2 separate regions of the Homo sapiens genome follow, and region 1 is linked to region 2. Evidence: fine-mapped expression QTL. A gene starts in region 2. The other region holds a variant in brackets. All regions are shown on one strand. Distances are from middle to middle. Region 1 overlaps GRIK5 (glutamate ionotropic receptor kainate type subunit 5). Region 2 holds the start of GRIK5 (glutamate ionotropic receptor kainate type subunit 5).

Region 1 (8,000 bases), 33 kb before region 2:
AATAATAATAAAAAATAACAGCCACACTCCTTAGCAGTGACTGTGAGGCCCTGGGATGTGGGCCCTGCTCTCGGATCTCTCTGCCCCTCACTTTTTCCCCTCAACCACACTTTTCCCCTCAAGTCTTTATACATATGGGCTCTCTACTTGGAAAACACTCTTCCCCAGATCCATCCTTTCACTTGGCAATTATTTGCTGCGCACCAGCTGGGTGTCAGATGGTTCTAGGCGCTGGGGATGCAGAAGTAAGGAAAATAGTCAAACTTCTGCCCTCATAAAACCCTCCCTGGTGGCTCTTCTCAGGACTGTATTCCCCACCCCTTTTAGGTCTCTTCTCAAACGTTATCCAACCACCTTGTCTAAAACAGCATCCACGCACCAGACACTTTTATCTCCTTACCTTGCTTCACCTAACACGATATTAATATATCATACGCTGTCAGTTTCCCCCACTAGAACATCAGCAGTTGGGGCGGGGGGCGGGAAGGAGGGGACAAGGAGCACCTCTGCTCATTACATTGCTGCCCCCTAGTGGCCAGGATGCAGTGGGTGCAGAATAGTTGCTCAGTAGTTATTCAGTAAGTGAATGACTAAATGTAGCTGGTTTGTTTTTGTTTTCGTTTCGCTCTTGTTGCCCAGGCTGGAGTGCAATGGCACCATCTCGGCTCACCACAACCTCTGCCTCCCAGGTTCAAGCAATTCTCCTGCCTCAGCCCCCTGAGTAGCTGGGATTACAGGCATGCGCCACCACATCCAGCTAATTTTTTTGTATTTTCAGTAGAGATGGGGTTTCTCCATGTTGGTCAGGCTGGTCTCGAATTCCCAACCTCAGGTGATCCGCCCACCTCGGCCTCCCAAAGTGCTGGGATTATAGGCGTGAGTCACTGCGCCTGGCCTAAACGTAGCTGTTTTTAAAGATGAGGCAGATCTATGTGTACTAACGTGGGAAGATGGCCAAGTTACAAGTAAAAAAAGCAAACTACACAGCAGTAAGTATAGTAAGATATCATTTTTGCAAAAATAAAAATTTAAGAAATTTAGGCTGGGCATGGTGGCTTACGCCTTTAATCCCAGCACCTTGGGAGGCCGAGGTGAGCAGATCACCTGAGGTCAGGAGTCGAGACCAGCCTGGCCTACATGGTGAAATCCCCATCTCTACTAAACAATACAAAAAAATTAGCCTGGCATGGTGGTGGGCGCCTGTAATCCCAGCTACTTGGGAGGCTGAGGCAGAAGAATTGCTTGAACCTGGGAGGTGGAGGTTGCAGTGAGCCAAGATCGTGCCACTGCACGCCAGCCTGGGGAACAGAGCCAGACTCTGTCTCAAAAAAATTAAGAAATTTAAAGATGTACCTGTATTAATGAATTTGTAGAAAATGAGTTGGAGGAATATGGTCTCTGAGGTGTAAGAACATCATGTATATCCAGTGTTTCTGCTATTTGTACCATTTGGTATTTTATCATTTAGTATTACATATATAAACAGAAAATAAAGGAGTTCCTTCTCAAATAATTGCTTATGAAAATTTCTGATGGTATGCAAAAATGCTTTTTAATGCATATATACTTGCTATTGTTGTGCAAAATAGGATTATACTTAATACAAATATGTTTTATAACCGGAAACACAGTATAATGTAAAATTTTTTAATGAAATGGACTTTATTTATTTATTTATTTATTTTTATTTTTGAGACAGAGTCTCACTCTTGTCGCCCAGGCTGGAATGCAGTGGCGCAATCTCGGCTCACTGTAACCTTCGCCTCCCAGGTTCAAGCGATTCTCCTGCCTCAGCCTCCTGAGTAGCTGGGATTACAGGTGCACACCACTACGCCTGGCTAATTTTTTTGTACTTTTAGTAGAGATGGGGTTTCACCATGTTGGCGGGGCTGGTCTCGAACTCCTGACCTCAGGTGATCTGCTCGCCTTGGCCTCCCAAAGTGCTGGGATTACAGATGTGAGCCACTGTGCCCAGCCTATTTTTTTAAAACAGGGTCTCACTCTGTCGCCCAGGCTGGAGTGCAGTGGTGCAATCATGGCTCACTGCAGCCTCAACCTCCCAGACTCAGGTGATCCTCCCACCTCCCAGCCTCCTGAGTGGCTGGGACTACAGGCACATGCCACCACACTTGGCTAAATTTTTTCAATTTTTGTAGAGATAGGGTTTCACCATGTTGCCAAGGTTGGTCTTGAACTCCTGGGCTCAAGTGATCCTCCCACTTCGGCCTCCCAAAGTACTGGGATTACAGGCGTAAGCCACCATGCCTGGCGTGTGTGTGCGTCTTCTATCAGATGAAGAGAACTGGGGACAACATTTCTAAAGACTCCTTGATAGAATCAGTCAATTGCCCATTCAACACTAATTTACTAGAAACCTGCCATGTGTCAGGCCCTGAGCTGGGGACATAGCTAAGTAGACAAGGCTCCCATCCCCAGGGTGTGGAGGCCACAGGTGAGGTGGGTGGGTATTGTCTTGGTCATGCCAGCATCTATGACCTGTGCTGATCTCATCTGTCCCCTGTGATACCCCTCCAAGTTAGGGGGTCACCACTCCCCATTTGAGGAGACACTAAGGCTCAGAGGGGGCAGCCACCTGCCTGCAGGTCACAAAGCCAGTAAGGAGTAAGTCCAGATTTGAACCCAGGGTTAGCCGACTCCAAAACCCATTCTTCTAACTACACTCACATACAGACCGCCTCAAGAAAGGTATCTAGCAGTAGTGACCACATGTGAGCCAGGCATGTGCCAGGCTCTGTGCAAATGCGCTCTCATTTAATTGCCTTAAAACTCACTGGCTGGGTGCAGTGGCTCATGCCTGTAATCCTAGCACTTTGGGAGGCCAAGGCGGACAGCTCACTTGAGGTCAGGAGTTCGAGACCAGCCTGGCCAACATGGCGAAACCCCGTCTCCACTAAAAATACAAAAATAGCCGGGCATTGTGGTGCATTCCTATAATCCCAGCTACTTAGGAGGCTGAGGCAGGAAAATCGCTTGAACCCTGGAGGCAGAGGTTGCAGTGAGCCGAGATCACGCCACTGCACTCCAGCCTGGGCGACAGAGTGAGACTCTGCCTCAAAAAGAAAAACAAAAACAAACAAACAAAAAAACCCTCTGTGAGGGAGGTAACATTAGCCCCTTTTCAAGAGGAGTGACTGACCTTCAGAGATAAGTGGCTTTGCAGGGATCATGTGGGAGCACTGGGGACCTGAAGCTGGCTCCTTCTGGCTCCTAACCAGTGCACTGCTATAGTGGACTCCATGGTGGCTACCCAGACTCTGTTTCAGGAGTGGGGCACTCATTGCCTCAGCTGCCCAGGGTGTAGGTGGCTGATGGCTCTCAGCTCTGTCAGTAGAAGAGCGTCCCCTCACCCAAAGTCCTGACTCTCCCCAAGAGCAGCCCACGTCCAGTGACATATCAGTGGGTGCTTAAAGGCCTGGCACCCTTACCACAGGGGGAGGTCCTTGACGGCCAGCTCAGCTCCAGAGCTGCCTGTGGGACAGCTAAGGCCCAGTTGTGACTGCAGCGCAGCTCAACTCCTCTGCCCAAGCCTGCTTCCTTCCCTCCTGCACAGGGCAGGTTTCCAGGGGCACGCCATCACACCTCCTGCCTCTACATCTCCATCTCAGAGTCAGCTTCCTGGGACCCTGACCTAAGATCTTCTTTGCCCTTGAAGGCTAAGCTTTATCCTGAGGGCCTCAGGGGCTTCAGTTAAAGCATACAAGTGACAGATCAGACTCACACTGTAGAAAGGTTCTATTGGAGGACAAGCTGGGGAGTGGAGAGACTAGAAGCCAGGAGGCCAGTAAGGAGGCTGATGAGAGGGGTGGGACCTGAATTCACACCATGGCAGTGATGGCAGGGAGAAGGCCAATGTCAGCCATGGCCACTGGGTGGAAAAAATGGGTCATAATTCAAGACAGGCCAAGGAGACCTGTGCCTGGCCCAGGGGTGACTGGCAGGATGGTGGTGCCCCAGGCTGTCTTCCATCTGGAAGTCACTCACCAGCTCTGGGCCACCCTGATGGGGTGCCCACCTTGGCTCTCCTGGTCACTAGCCATGGGCCTGGACATGAAACCTTGATGCCTCACTGTACATTTGAGAAAACGGGGCTAATACCAGTCCCTCTCTCACTGGGTGGCCATGAGGAGTCAAGGATGGAGACAAGTCAGAAAGCTCAGACAAGGGCCTGGCACAGCGTGCCACTCCATCAGTGTACTCCGAGCTTCCCAAGTTCCCAGCTGGAGGGCTGGAAAGGGCACGGGCCTTAAGTCAGACACACCTGGCTGCAGCCCTGTGCACTGGGGACTCCAGATCTCACACTGGGCAGTGATCCTCAGGCCATGAAGGACTGCTATGAAAATTATGTTAAGTAACACTTGAAAAGTTCCTCGCACATGGTGTGAAATCAACAAATGACAGCTGCTGCTGTTGTGATGACGGTGGTGACTATTCCTGTGCAGCT[C/T]GGCACACTCGGCTATCCCACAGCAGGGCAAGGCCAAACTCCGCCTATCCTTCACGCTCCAGCTCCTCCTCCAGTGTTCTCCCTGTAAATGTCATTGCCATCACCCAGATGCCCAAGCCAGACACAGGAGGAATGCTCTCCCTCCTGTCCTCTCCTGCATCCCCCACCCTAGGCAGTCACCAAGCCCTGGTGCTCTTTAGCCCTTCCCCTAGTCTCTAGCTCTGACGTTCTCCCGCCTGAGGCCCACCAGCTCATTCCTTATCTCCTCACTGGTCTTCCTGTTACCACTGCTTCCCCCAACCCCAGGGCCAATTCACTTGAGCCAGATCAAAACCCTTCAAGGGTGGCCGGGCATGGTGGCTCATGCCTGTAATCCCAGCACTCTGGGAGGCTGAGGCAGGTGGATCACCTGAGTTCAGGAGTTTGAGACCAGCCTGGCCAACATGGCGAAACCCATCTCTACTAAAAATACAAAAATTAGCCAGGTGTGGTGGCATGCGCCTGTAGTCCCAGCTACTCAGGAGGCTGAGGCAGGAGAATCATTTGAACCCACGAGGCAGAGGTTGCAGTGAGCCAAGATCACCCCATGGCACTCCAGCCTGCCTGGGCAGCAGAGCCAGAGTCCGTCTCAAAACAAAAACAAAAACAAAACTCTTCAAGGGCATCCCATGGGCTTTCTGCTGAGGCCCAAACCCTTTAGCCCACTCAGTAAGAGCACATCGGGCTTGTTCACCATGGTATCCCCAGGGTATAGCACAGGGCTTGGTATACAGTAGGCACTCAACAAACATTGGCTGAATGGAAAATGGATGAACACACAAATCTATGTATGTGCTGGCCATGCTGGTATGAATAATAACAATAATAAAAATAGTATAATCCCAGCACTTTGGAAGGCTGAGGTGGGAGGATTGCTTAAGCCCAGGAGTTCAAGACCAGCCTAGGCAACAGGGCCAGACCCCATCTCTACAAAAAACACAAAAATTACCTAGGCATTATGGCATATGCCTATAGTCCCAGCAACTCGGGAGGCTGAGGTGGGAGGATCGCTTGAGCCCAGGAGGTGGAGGCTGCAGTGAGCTGTGATTGCACTACTGCGCTCCAGCCTGGGCAACAGAGAGAGACCCAGTCTCAAAGGAAAAAAAAAAAAGGACACACGCATACAGCACCCACTATGCACCAGGCCCTGTTCTAAGTTCTTCACTGCATGTTGTTCTTCAAAACAACCCTATGTGCTAAAGGGCTGTTATTCCCCAATTTTACAGTTGAACAAACTACAACCTAAAGAAATGTTAAGCACTTGCCCAAAGCCACACAACCAGTGCACAGCAGAGCTAAGCTTTAAACAGCCAACCACAGACACTCTCAGCTGCCACACTTTGCTGGCCCCAGGCCCCAAATCCTCTCACCCTACCCTACTGAGTAGGCCCTGAGACACAAAGGTCAGACAGCTGTAAATAAGAACTGTTCCAGACTTCTCTGTTGGTGAAAAAAGGGCATCCAGTTTAGAGTGACTTCAGGTGCAGGGCTACTCCCTTGGAGCCTGCTTATTTCTGGGATACCAGATGAAAGAATATTTCTGAGCCTACGTGACTAAAGACCAGGCTGTGGAAACAGGTCACGAGGAAGCCTGTGCCCTCAGGTGGGCATAGAGCTGTCAGCTCTGGGGCTTCTCATCTCCTGTCTCACCCGGGGCCTCTTTGGGCTTCAGGCTTTAAAATTCACCCTGGGCTGGGTGTGGTGTCTCATACTTGTAATCCTAGCACTTTGGGAGGTGAGGTGGGCGGATCACTTGAGGCCAGGAGTTCAAGACCAGCCTGGCCAACATGATGAAACCTGTTGCTCCAAAAAATACAAAAATCAGCCAGGCACGGTGGCGCACCTGTAATCCCAGCTACTCGGAAGGCCGAGGCAGGAGAATCGCTTGAACCCGGGAGGTGGAGGTTGCAGGGAGGCAGAGGTTGCTGTGAGCAGAGATCGTGCCATTGCACTCCAGCCTGGGCAACAGAGGAGACTCTGTCTCCAAAATAAATAAATAAATAAATAAAATAATAATAATAATAAAATTCACCCTGACCTTAAAACTCACCCTGGGGCAGAAGTTTTCAAACCAGCTGGCAGCTTTATGGGGCAGCGCCTTGGGACCTGCCTGTGGGGTGGGGTGGGAGGCACCCCCATCTCTGCCTTCACCAGAGCAGCTCTGCTCTTGCCCAGGGTTCTGAGGGAGTTTGCAATTGGAAAAAAAGTTCTGTCAAAATAACTTTTGAAAGTCAGTGCCCTAAGGGATAAACGTCCTTGTCAAGCAAAGTGGCCCTCTCATGTCTTCCCTCGTGATGTTCAGGGGGTTGGATGCTGTAAATTCTGGCATGAGAGAGAGGAGGGTGAGAATCTCTGATGAGCTCTGTCAAGTCTAACGTCAAGGCTGCCCTGGCCATCTCTGGCCACAGCCCCTTGGTCTGCACACCAGCTCTGGGAGTGTCCTAATCAGGGGCCTACTTATCTCCCAGGGCACAGTCCTGCCTCTGGGCAGTTGTGCCCATAGTTTCTCCCACCTGGAATAAAAAGAGGAACTACATTTCAGTCCCCCAGTATCTGCCAAGCGATGTGTGAGGTACTTGTCCCCACGTCCCGTAACCCTCACTATAGACCTGCAAGGTATTATTATCCCCATCTTAGGGAGGGGAAAACTGAGGTTCAGAGGAGAGAAATGACACTTAAGGATTCAAATCTAGGAGTGTCTGACACCCAAAGATCCTTTCCACTGCACCCTTGCCTGCCACCTCCCATGGCCCTGCCTTCCATCCCTCCTCAGCTGCAACCAAATTCTGCCCACGCTCAGGCCCCGCTGGTTCCTCCAGTGCATCCCACTCCCTAGTATCGCCCCATCTTTGTAGATGCTATTTCCCCTGCTCCAAATACACTCCCCTTCTCCCACACCCCCTTCACCTTGCTAACTCCTTCATGACCTTTGGGAATCAGTTTGGGTATCGTCTCTTCTGGGAAGCCCTACTGGGATATCTGACTGGGTCAGGAACCTCCTCTGGGACCGTCCTCTGAGCTCCCCAATCACAGCCCAGACAGCTCTGTGCTGTGGTCATTCACTGTCTTGCGCCCCAAAGAGACTCTAAGCTCTTGGGGGCAGGGTCCAGATCCACTGTGCTCACAGTGGGATCCCATGCCCAGCAAGAGGCAAGGCACATAGTAGGTACTCAATAAACAGCCACTGAATGGGTGAATGTATGAGTTCTACATGCAGCCCTCCAGGTCCATGATGTGCCAGGCCCTCCCTAGCAGGTGCTGGGCATAGCACACAGGTGAGGTGTGCTCCCTGCTCTCAGCCCTGCCTCCTGCAGGAAGCCTTTGACCTCCTCAGACCTTTTCCTGCTCCCCACTCCATGTCTCTTTCATTCACTTAACAAATCTTTGCACACCGACTAATCCAAGGTGGCATGAAAGGGGCATTTGGCAAAGCAGGACACAGGTGGTGATGCATGTACCACCTCTCCTCCTCTGTCCCATCCCACAGCACCCGCCAGGC
Region 2 (9,900 bases):
ACTTGCCACTTTCCTAACATCCCCAGTTCCCACAATCCCATGGGGAGAGAGGCCTGGACATCCGAGGTCTGGAGGAGAGAGTATCTGGGAGTTAGGAAACTTCGGGAGAGATGGAGAGATGGAGAAAAAGAGAGAGAGGCACACACAGAACCCCATAGATGAATGGACCCAGAGCAGTAAAAGGGGGAAAAAAAAAAAAAGCAAAGAGAGAGAAGGGAGGAAACAGAGAAAGTGAAAGAGAGGCTTAGAGAAGGGAAAGACAGAGAGACTCAGAAAGAGAGAAAGGTCAAAATAGATAGAAATACAAGGGAAGAGAAAGACAAGACAATAGGAAAATGGGGGTAGAAATGGAGAGAAAAGAGGAGAGTTACAGGGAGGCAGGGAGAGGACTAGGAGGGAGAAAGAGGGAAGAGACAGGAGGATGAGGAGGCAAGATAAAGAAAGGACAGAGCAGGGAGCGGAGGAAAGAGGGGCAGGCTGGAGGTGGGGAAACCAAGGCACAGGCGAGACACAGGAAGAGGGAGACAGAGGATGGAGAAAAGATAGGAACCGACTCGGATACAAGCAGGAAGAGCTGGAAGGGAGGAGTGAGTAAGGCAGGGAGTGGAGCTGCCTGCCAGAAGTGGGTGCCATACCACTGCCCCCCACCCTACTGGGGAGAAGAAGTAAAGGGGGAGATGGTGCATCTTTGCTCTTCACAACTCTCCACCCCTAAGGAGTCAGGGATTCCTCTAGGCACCCCAGCTTTCTGCAGGGCAACCACTGGGCAAGGAGTTTGGCCAGATGCACAGCTCCACTTCCCCTGGCTGAGGGCTGTGCCCCACGGGAAGGGATGCTTGGGTTTCCATGGAGTAGGGTTACTGTGGGGGGCACAGAATGCTGTGAAGTGGGCCTGGACACCGGACCCCACTCAGTCCCCATGGAAGGACAGCTTGAGCTGGTGAAACTGTGGAATGAGAACTTCGAGGGAAGGATAGAGGCACAAGTCCTTCTCACCATCTCAAGTGGCCTGCAAAACCTAGGCTGGGGATCAGTCCCAGCTCTGCCCCTGACTCACTGCGTGATCTTGAGCAAGTCACTGCCTTCTAGGCCTCTGAGAAGAAGAGAGTGCTAGGTGGGAGGGTATGCTGGACAGGCTGGGGACTGCAAACTATAATGTGGATTAAGGTGAAGGCTTGTCAAGGATGGAGGCACAAGGGATGCTGGGAGACCCGGAGGAGCGCTCAGAGTGGGAGGAGTGTGAAGGGCGGAGCTAGGAGAGAGGCAGGAGTGGAGTGGGTCATCCTGAGACACCAGGGACTCCTGGGGCAAATCAGGGAGCAGAGGACAAAGGACAGAAAGACCGAGGGAGAGATGGGACAGAAGGACAGGGACCCACAGGTGGCAGCCAAAGGTGGGAGCAGACAGAGAAAGACAGGGTTGAGGGGCAGCAGGTGGACACAGAGATACACACAGAAAGACAGCCCAAGACGTAGGAACTGAGGCTAAGTGAGAGAGCAAGAGACAGACACAGCCTAGAAGTGAGACAGCAAAGGAGACAGAGACAGGGCAGGTAGGGTGTCAGGCAGGTCCAGGACTCAGCCCCAGAGACTGGGCAAAGCCAGATAAAAGTCAAAACCCAGCAGAGAGCTGAGCAACAGTGGGCATAGGAGAGACATCAGCAAAGGTGAGAGGCAAGGAGGGCCAGCGAAGGCACACAGGGTGAGGGAGAAGGCAAAGGGAGATAAAGAAACAGCAGCAGGTACAAGACTTGGGAGAAGGAAAGAAATGGCCAAACTCTACAAAGAGAGAGGGCCAGTCGGAAAGAGAGACAGTATGTCGGAGCTGCACGACAGGCCCATAGAAGAGGAAGGGGCAAGGGGGAAAAGCACCTGGGAGAGAGAAAGGGGGAGTCAGGGAGGGAAACTGAGGTGGGGAGATGGAGTGAGTGCACTAGAGGGGCACAGGCAGGGACAGGGCAAGCACCTGCAGGAGAGGCCAGACCCACACAGAGGCATAGCCACCCCAAGACACTCAGGAATGCCGTGTGGGGGAGCAGGAGATCCTGGGGCCTGAAAGCCCCCAGACATGGAGAGGAATGGGAGCAGAAAGGCCACGCGAGGTAACACAGAAGTCGGGAGAGAGAATGGGAGTGGAAAGAGCCAGACCAGCCAGGAAAAGTCAGCATGGACCACGGAGAGGTGGGGCAGCAGCTGAGGAGGGAGGGACTGAGGAGCCGGGCACCCAGAGTGGATCTGGGGGAAAGAGGTGGAAAAGTGACAGAGGGAAGACAGCCTCCAAGCTCAGAGGCAGAGAGAGGGAGGAGGACAGGTGAGCGGAGGCACAGAATAGAAAGAGAAATGGAAAGAGACCTGCCGAGGGAGACTTGGAAAGAGGGAAGCCAGGGTGGAGGAGTTCTGACAGAGAGAGGGATCTAAACAGAGACATGCCGAGAGCAACCTGGGCTAACAGCAAAGAGAGAAGTTGGGCAGAGTCAGAGAGGGGCCCAAGAGACACAGGAAATGGGGGCTCAAAAGCGGAAAGACATATCCAGGAGATAGAGACTGGACGGGGTGGGGACAGGGCCAAGGCCCACCGCAGGCAGAGGATGAGGCTCAGAGGAACAGAAAGAGCCAGTCTGGGACCAGGACGGAGGCTTGGAGACAGCAGGGGCACGGACATGCCAGGGGCCCGGGGTAAGTGAGAGCCCAAGTAAGAGCAATCAGCCCCGTAGGACCCCAGAAAGCTAGAGGGCCAGGGGCGGCAGTGAGCTATGTACCCAGAAGAAGAGGTGAGAAGAGGTCGAGGTGAATGGACGCTGAGGAGATGGAGGGCGCAGAGCAGGCCCCTAGTGGGGGAGGGTACTTGCCAGTCCGGAGAACGGGGAGAATGTGGTGCCCCCCTGCCAGGCGGCACCAGAGCCCAGCCTTCCAGGACCCAGAACCCAGCCCAATCCCTGCCCTGCAGACACTCACGGATCCTGGTGGGACGGAGGGCTGGGCTCCCTCGAGGCCCGAAGACCGACAGCGGGAGGTGCTCTGGCGCTGGGTGGTGGTGGGGCTGGGCGGGGGGAGAGGGCAGTCCACAGGGCCCCCTCCCCCGCCGCCGGTGGTGGCTCCCAACTAATCCAAAACGGTGGCTCCACAGGAGCAGGGAGGAAGGACAGGTGGAAGAGGAGAGGGCGGGCCGGGGAGGGGAGGAAGGGGAAAGGAGAAAATGGAGGAGAGAAGGGGAGAGAGGAGAGGGGGAAGGAGCAAATGGAGGGGAAGGAGGGAGGAAAGGAGGAGAGGAAGGTGAAAACGGAAGGGGGGGGCACAGGCAAAGCCGGGGGAGGGGGAAGCTGGCCCAGGAAAGGGCCCCCGCCCCCTCCCCTAGCCGGGCCGGCCTGGGGGGGCCACAGGGGGCGAGGACTGGGTGGAGAAAAGGAAGCCGGCCATCAGGAGAAGTGGGGGAGGGGAGGGCCTGCTGGGGGAGGGGGCCGCCCCCTTTCCCCCTCCCCCCTGGAGCCTGGGCCCTGCCCTGGTTGAGGCAAGGGCCCGGAGTCCTCAAGCCCTCAGCCCCCACGGGAAAAGCATGCTGGGGGCGGGGAGAGCCCGGGAGTGGAGAGCTGGGGAGGATGGAGAGCTGGGAGACCCGGAGAGGCCAAGAAGGGGGCAAATGAGGTGGAGAGATAGGGAGGAGGGAGAGGAGGATGGAGAGGAGCAGGTGGAAGAGAAAGGCGGAGGAGGGTGGGGTGTCCCAGGGGCTCCCGGTGCTGGGCCTCAGTGGGAGGGCCTGGCGACACACTCCTGGTCCCCTGTGAGGAGCCGGCTCCAGTCCCCGGCTCCAGTCCCCGGCTGGGCCTGCCTCCCTGCCGCTGGCTGCCGCCACCGCTCAGTCTCCCCTCCGAGGCCGCCGCCTGCCTGCCCGCCTGCCGCCTGCGCTGGGTCCTGGAGCGCAGTGGGGTGGTTCAGGAGAGAGAGAAGAGGGAGGGAGGGAGGCAGGGAGGAGGGCGGGCAGGAGGAAGGGAGGGAGGCAGGCAAAGAGAGAGTAGGGAGGTGAGTCGGGGGAGGGGGAGCCTGTATTGGTTGGGGCTGGGGGCCCCCCGCGAGGAGAATGCTGATGAGAAGAAGGAGCTGCATTGGATGGAAGGCCCACCCCCGAGCCACCCCCTCTACCACACCATGCCACCGCCCTGCCCAGGCAGCCCTGGGCACAGGAGCCCACAGAGATGAGAGGCAAGAAGACCCAGGGAGAAGGCCACTGAGATGAGGGGAGAGGGCTACAGAGATGAAGAGAAATGAAGAGAAGAGAGACAGCCGTCAAGACTGTCCAGAGAAGTGGGCTGAGGCCCACAAACCCCACAAGGACAAGGACAGGAAAAGCCCAGGGATAAGAAAGAAAGGCCCATGGAGACAAGGGAGCAGCCTACAGAGACAAGCAAAAGGACCTCGGAGACAAGGGGCAGTAATGTGGACATAGAGACCTCCCGCGAAGGAAAACGGGAGAAGCCAGAGACACAAGAGAGAGGCCCCTGGAAACAGAAAGCACTCCTCAGATATGGGGAGCGGTCCACAGGGCAGGGAGAGAGCCAAGGAGAGCCGAAGAAGGTCACAGAAACAAGGGAGGCCTACAGACACCAGGGTACCAAAAAGACAAGGATGTGGCTCATAGACACAAGAGAGCCACTGAGGCAGGAGCTGCCAGCCTGGAGATGCGGGGCAAGCCTCCCCCAATATAAATAGCTCCTATAGAGGTGAGGGGATGGGTGGTGAGTATGAGAATTCCCTATAGTGCACAGAGAAATCCTTGGGACCCACAGAGATGAGTGGGTGGAGAGAAGGGGCCCTCATTCTCTAGTCACAGGAGCAGAGAGGCAGTGGGAAAGGTGGATGGGACAAGGAGAGGAAGCTGGAGGGCAGAGCCAGAAGTGGGAGACTCCTTCCCAGGGAACACCCTGCAGCCTCTCAGAAGGAGCTGAGCAGGACAGGGGGATGGAAGAGAGAAGCGACACAGATCTTGGAGTGGGGGTGGGTGGTGCATGGCTGGGTGGGGGGTGAAATTTGGGGGGAAGAAACATGACAGTTGGCGCCGAAGGCTGAGCCCGTGACTCACCACCACCCCCGATGCTCGTGATGGGGAGGAGACACTGACACACTCACGTGCGGCCCACAGCATATGTGACCGCATGCCTCGAACACACAGCTGGCACATGGCAACTCCTGGACCACATGCCAGCCCAGCACAGGAAGCCCTCTGCAAGCTGGCATGTGGGGCATCCTGGACACACATCTGACACATATATCTGACGCTGAAGGACCACCAACTTTGCACACACCTCCTTACCCCACTTGGTCAACATCTACACCGCCCCCTCAAACATCCACACTTAACTCCAGTCAGGCCTAAAAGCCCAGATTCACACCTGCCTCTGGGACTTTGCTTATGAAGGACCTCAACACAGAACACCATCCTTTCGACCAGGGCGGTGGCTCATTCCTGTAACCCCAGCACTTTGGAAGGCCGGGGCAGGTGGACCACCTGAGGTTGGGAGTTCAAGACCAGCCTGGCCAACATGGCAAAACCCCGTCACTACTAAAAATACAAAAATTAGCCAGGCCCGGTGGCACACTCCTTTAGTCCCAGCTACTTGGGAGGCTGAGGCACAAGAATTGCTTGAACCTAGGAGGCAGAGGTTGCTGTGAGCCATGATCATGCCACTGCACTCCAGCATGGGAGACAAAGCGAGACTCCATCTCCAAAAAAAAAACAAAAAACAAAAACCAACCACCATCCCCTCTAAATTCAACCTGTCCCGGAAATCCCAGCCAGTCCTGCACTACCACCTCCAGAAAGACCTCAGCTTATCCTCAGCTTATTCCTATATGATCTGGAGAAAAGAGACCTGCACCACCCAAATCAAGTTGAGAAGTCCAAGCAAAAGGCCTGAGAAGTTACCTGGATCCTCAAATTTTCTTTTTTTTTCCTTTTCTTTTTTTTTTTTTTTTGAGATGGAGTCTCGCTCTGTTGTCCAGACTGGAGTGCAGTGGCATGATCTCGGCTCACTGCAAGCTCTGCCTCCTGGGTTCACACCATTCTCCTGCCTCAGCCTCCTGAGTAGCTGGTACTACAGGCGCCCACCACCACACCCGGCTAACTTTTTTTGTATTTTTAGTAGAGACGGGGTTTCACCATGTTAGCCAGGATGGTCTCGATCTCCTGACTTCGTGATCTGCCTGCCTCGGCCTCCCAAAGTGCTGGGATTACAGGCGCAAGCCACTGCACCCGGCCAGGTTTTCTTTTCTTTTATTTTTTCTTTCTTTCTTTTTTTTTTTTCTTTAGATGGAGTTTCGCTCTTGTTGCCTAGGTTGGAGTGCAATGGCGCCATCTTGGCTCACTGCAACCTCCGCCTCCGGGGTTCAAGTGATTCTCCTGCCTCAGCCTCCCGCGTAGCTGGGATTACAGGCATGCACCACCATGCCTGACTAATTTTGTATTTTTAGTAGAGACGGAGTTTCTCCATGTTGGTCAGGCTGGTCTTGAACTCCTGACATCGGGTGATCGGCCTGTCTCGGTCTCCCAAAGTGTTGTGATTACAGGTGTGACCCACCGCACCCAGCCTGATCCTCAGATTTTCAAGTGGGGAAAAGGAGGTTTCAGCAGAAGCAAGAATCTGCCCAAGGTCACACAGCCTGTCAAAAACTGAGCATGGCTTCCACTTCTCTGTCACCTACCCCAGGTGATTTTGCCCTAAGGGCAAACCCAGACTGCTTCAGAGCAGGCCGAGCCTAGCTTTAGCTCACTAATTTCCACCAACTCTTTCCTCCACTTCTTGCATTCAACCCTTCAACATGCAACCACTTGAACTTCCTGCCTGGCAGGCAGGTGAGCCTGGGGGCCAAGAATGTAGACTGTAAGGTCAACTCCTGGGTTGGAATCCTGACTCTTCCTAACTATGGGAACTACGACTAGTTACTTCTCTGGGGCCTCGATGTTTTGTAGAGTCAGCATGACAGTTTCTCTCTCATAGGGTTGTTGAGAGGATTAAACTGAGTAATGCATGTAAGCATTGAGCATAATACCTAGCACGTCATAATACACTCAAGAGATGTTAGTTATTATTATTAGGCTCCCGGAGATACTAATAAAAATAACAACTGGCCAGACACAGTGGCTCACACATGTAATCCCACCATTTTGGGAGGCCAAGACAGGAGGATAGCTTGAGCCCAGGAGTTCTGAGACCAGCCTGGGCAACATAGTGAGACCCTATCTCTATAAAAAAAAAAAAAAAACCCGGGCATGGTGGCTCATGCCTGTAATCCCAGCACTTTGGGAGGTCAAGGTAGATGGATCAACTTGAGGCCAGGAGTTCGAGACCAGCCCAGCCAATGTGGCAAAAACCCATCTCTACCAAAAACTAGGAAAAATTAGCAGGGCATGGCGGTGTATGCCTGTAATCCCAGCTACTCAGGAGGCTGAAAATTGCTTGAGCCTGGGAGGCAGAGGTTGCAGTTAGCTGAGATCACACCACTGCACTCCAGCCTGGGTGACAGAGCTAGACTGTCTCAAAAAAAAAAAAAAAAAAAAAAAAAAAATTAGGGACTGGGCGCAGTGGCTCACGCCTGTAATCCCAACACTTTGAGAGGCTGGGTGGGGGGGTGGATCACCTGAGGTCAAGAGTTCGAGACCAGCCTGGCCAACATTGCAAAAACCTGTCTCTACTAAAAATACAAAAATTAGCCGAGAGTGGTGGTGTCTGCCTGTAGTCCCAGCTACTCAGGAGGCTTAGGCAGGAGAATCACTTGAACCCAGGAGGCGGAGGTTGCAGTGAGCTGAGATCGTGCCACTGTACTCCAGCCTGGGCGGTGGGCGACAGAGTGAGACTCCATCTCAAAAAAAAAAAAAATTAAATTAAATTTTAAAAATAGGCCAGGTGCAGTGGCTCACGCCTGTAATCCCAGCACTTTGGGAAGCCAAGGCAGGTGGATCACGAGGTCAGGAGATTGAGACCATCCTGGCCAACACGGTGAAACCCCGTCTCTACTAAATATACAAAAATTAGCCAGGCGTGGTGGCGAGCGCCTGTAGTCACAGGTACTCAGGAGGCTGAGGCAGGAGAATCGCTTGAACCTGGGAGGCGGAGGTTGCAGTGAGCCGAGATCGCGCCACTGCACTCCAGCCTGGGCGGCAGAGAAAGACTCTGTCTCATAAATAAAATAAAATAAAATAAAATAAAATAAAATAAAATAAAATAAAAATAAAATGAGTAACTCCTAGATGTCTTTTACTCTCTGCCTCACATGAGATGAAATGGGGCTCACATGAAATGGGGCTGTTATTAGCCCCATTTCACAGATTAGAAACTTAGGCTCAGGACAGTTGACTTGCCCTAGAACCAGGATTCCAATCCGGGAATCTGTTTTAACTATACATGCCTGGTGTTAGGGAATTTAATCCATGAGAAGGTTAGGACATCTAGTGACCAAATGGCCATAGAATTGGCCCCGGGTCTCACTGTGAGACGCATCCCATAGTGGCTTCAGGTAAGTAAATAAATAACACAATTCTGAGAGTCAGTTTCCTCATCCGATAAGTTGAAATTCCTCTGTGTTTGGGTTCAAGGAGTAGGTCTGGAAATGTTTCTTTTCTTCTTTCAGATGGAGTCTCGCTCTGTCGCCCAGGCGGGAGTGCAGTGGCGTGATCTCGGCTCACTGCAACCTCGGCCTCCTGGGTGCAATCAAATCTCGAGCCTCAGCCTCCCGAGTTGCTGGGGTTACAGGCACGAGCCACCACGCCCAGCTAATGTTTTGTATTTTTAGTAAAGATGGTAGTTTCACCAGGTTGGCCAGGTGGGTCTCGAATGCCTGACTTCAAGTGAACCCGCCTCAGCGTCCCAAAATGTTGGGATTGCAGGCGTGAGCCACCACGCCCAGCCTGGAAACGTTTCTAACAGTACTGGGGCAACTCCCTCCCAAGGCCCTGAGGGGCGCAGGAACGAGGTGAGTAGGAATGGCCAGAGCCCCTTGGACACATGGGGCCCCAATCTCGAGGTGTAAGGGTCAGAGTCACCCCGGAAGGAGGTGGAGTGGAGTCCGCCCGTTACCGGCTCACTTCCTTCAGGCTCTCACCCCGATTGTCCTTCAGGTCCTCTACCCACCACACTCCCTATTTCTTCCAATGAAATTGTCCCTGCTTCTTTTTCTCCATATCCTCGCTCTCCTTGCTTCCCCTATGACATTTCTCCTCTCTCCACCTCCCAAAAGTCCCCTCGGTCTTTTCTCTGTTTCTTCCTGTTGCCTTCATTCCCCTCCTTTTAATAAAGTGAGTCTGGAACCTTGGTTTCCCTTTTCTCTCTCCATGTGACTGGTGCTGCATGCAGTTTGCCCTCTCCCCATCGCGCTAAGTGGTTTCACTTTCTCCCTCTGACCCTCGGGGAAACCACAAAGGTTCCCGTGCCTCCATTCCCCCGCTCCAGCCCTCAAGGTGCCGCGTGCCTCAATTTCCCAGGCTCTTTTCCTCCCTCTCCCTGTCCCCAACGCTGACTCCCTCACGGCGTCCCCAAAATGGCGCCCGCGGCCGCGCTCCGCCGCCTAACGTCATCGCGCCGCCCTCCGCTCAGAGTTCCCCTCTGGAGCCGTCGGAGGCGGAGTCGAGGAGGAGGAGGAGCATCCTCTAAGGAGGATTAAAGGGGCGGGCACTATCCACCCGAGGGCTGACCGGTGAGGGAACGACGCTAAAGGATTGGTTGGGCGCTGCGGGGAATCTCGACGCTCCTCACTATTGGCCCAAGCCTCAGAGACATGAACGTCGATTGGCCGAACGGCAGGGCCCGAGCGGGCAATGATTGGTTGCGTCCGGCCGTCCGTGCGGCGGCCGAGGAGGAAGGTGGGAGGGGCGTTGCTGAGGGTAGCTGGGGGCGAGAGCGAGGCTACGGAGCAG

What was found. PIP is the estimated chance that this variant, and not a neighbour inherited with it, causes the effect.
Region 1: its variant is fine-mapped to the expression of GRIK5 in skeletal muscle (GTEx, PIP above 0.99). The same link has a PIP of 0.9 or more in left ventricle.

The regions. Positions count from the first base shown.
Region 1 is chr19:42,034,385-42,042,384 of GRCh38, forward strand. All of the region lies in intron 12 of GRIK5 (glutamate ionotropic receptor kainate type subunit 5), which reads right to left. Among named protein-coding and RNA genes, the nearest start is that of GRIK5, 32 kb to the right of the region's middle. RefSeq lists enhancers at 373-667, 413-707, 638-687, 905-1,404. The variant C/T (reference allele first, on the strand shown) is at 4,463.
Region 2 is chr19:42,066,287-42,076,186 of GRCh38, forward strand. It overlaps GRIK5 (glutamate ionotropic receptor kainate type subunit 5), which reads right to left and starts at 3,920. Exons shown (of 20, transcript NM_002088.5): 1 at 2,955-3,920. It overlaps ZNF574 (zinc finger protein 574), which reads left to right and starts at 9,880. Exons shown (of 2, transcript NM_022752.6): 1 at 9,880-9,900. RefSeq lists enhancers at 9,040-9,109, 9,190-9,239, 9,460-9,579.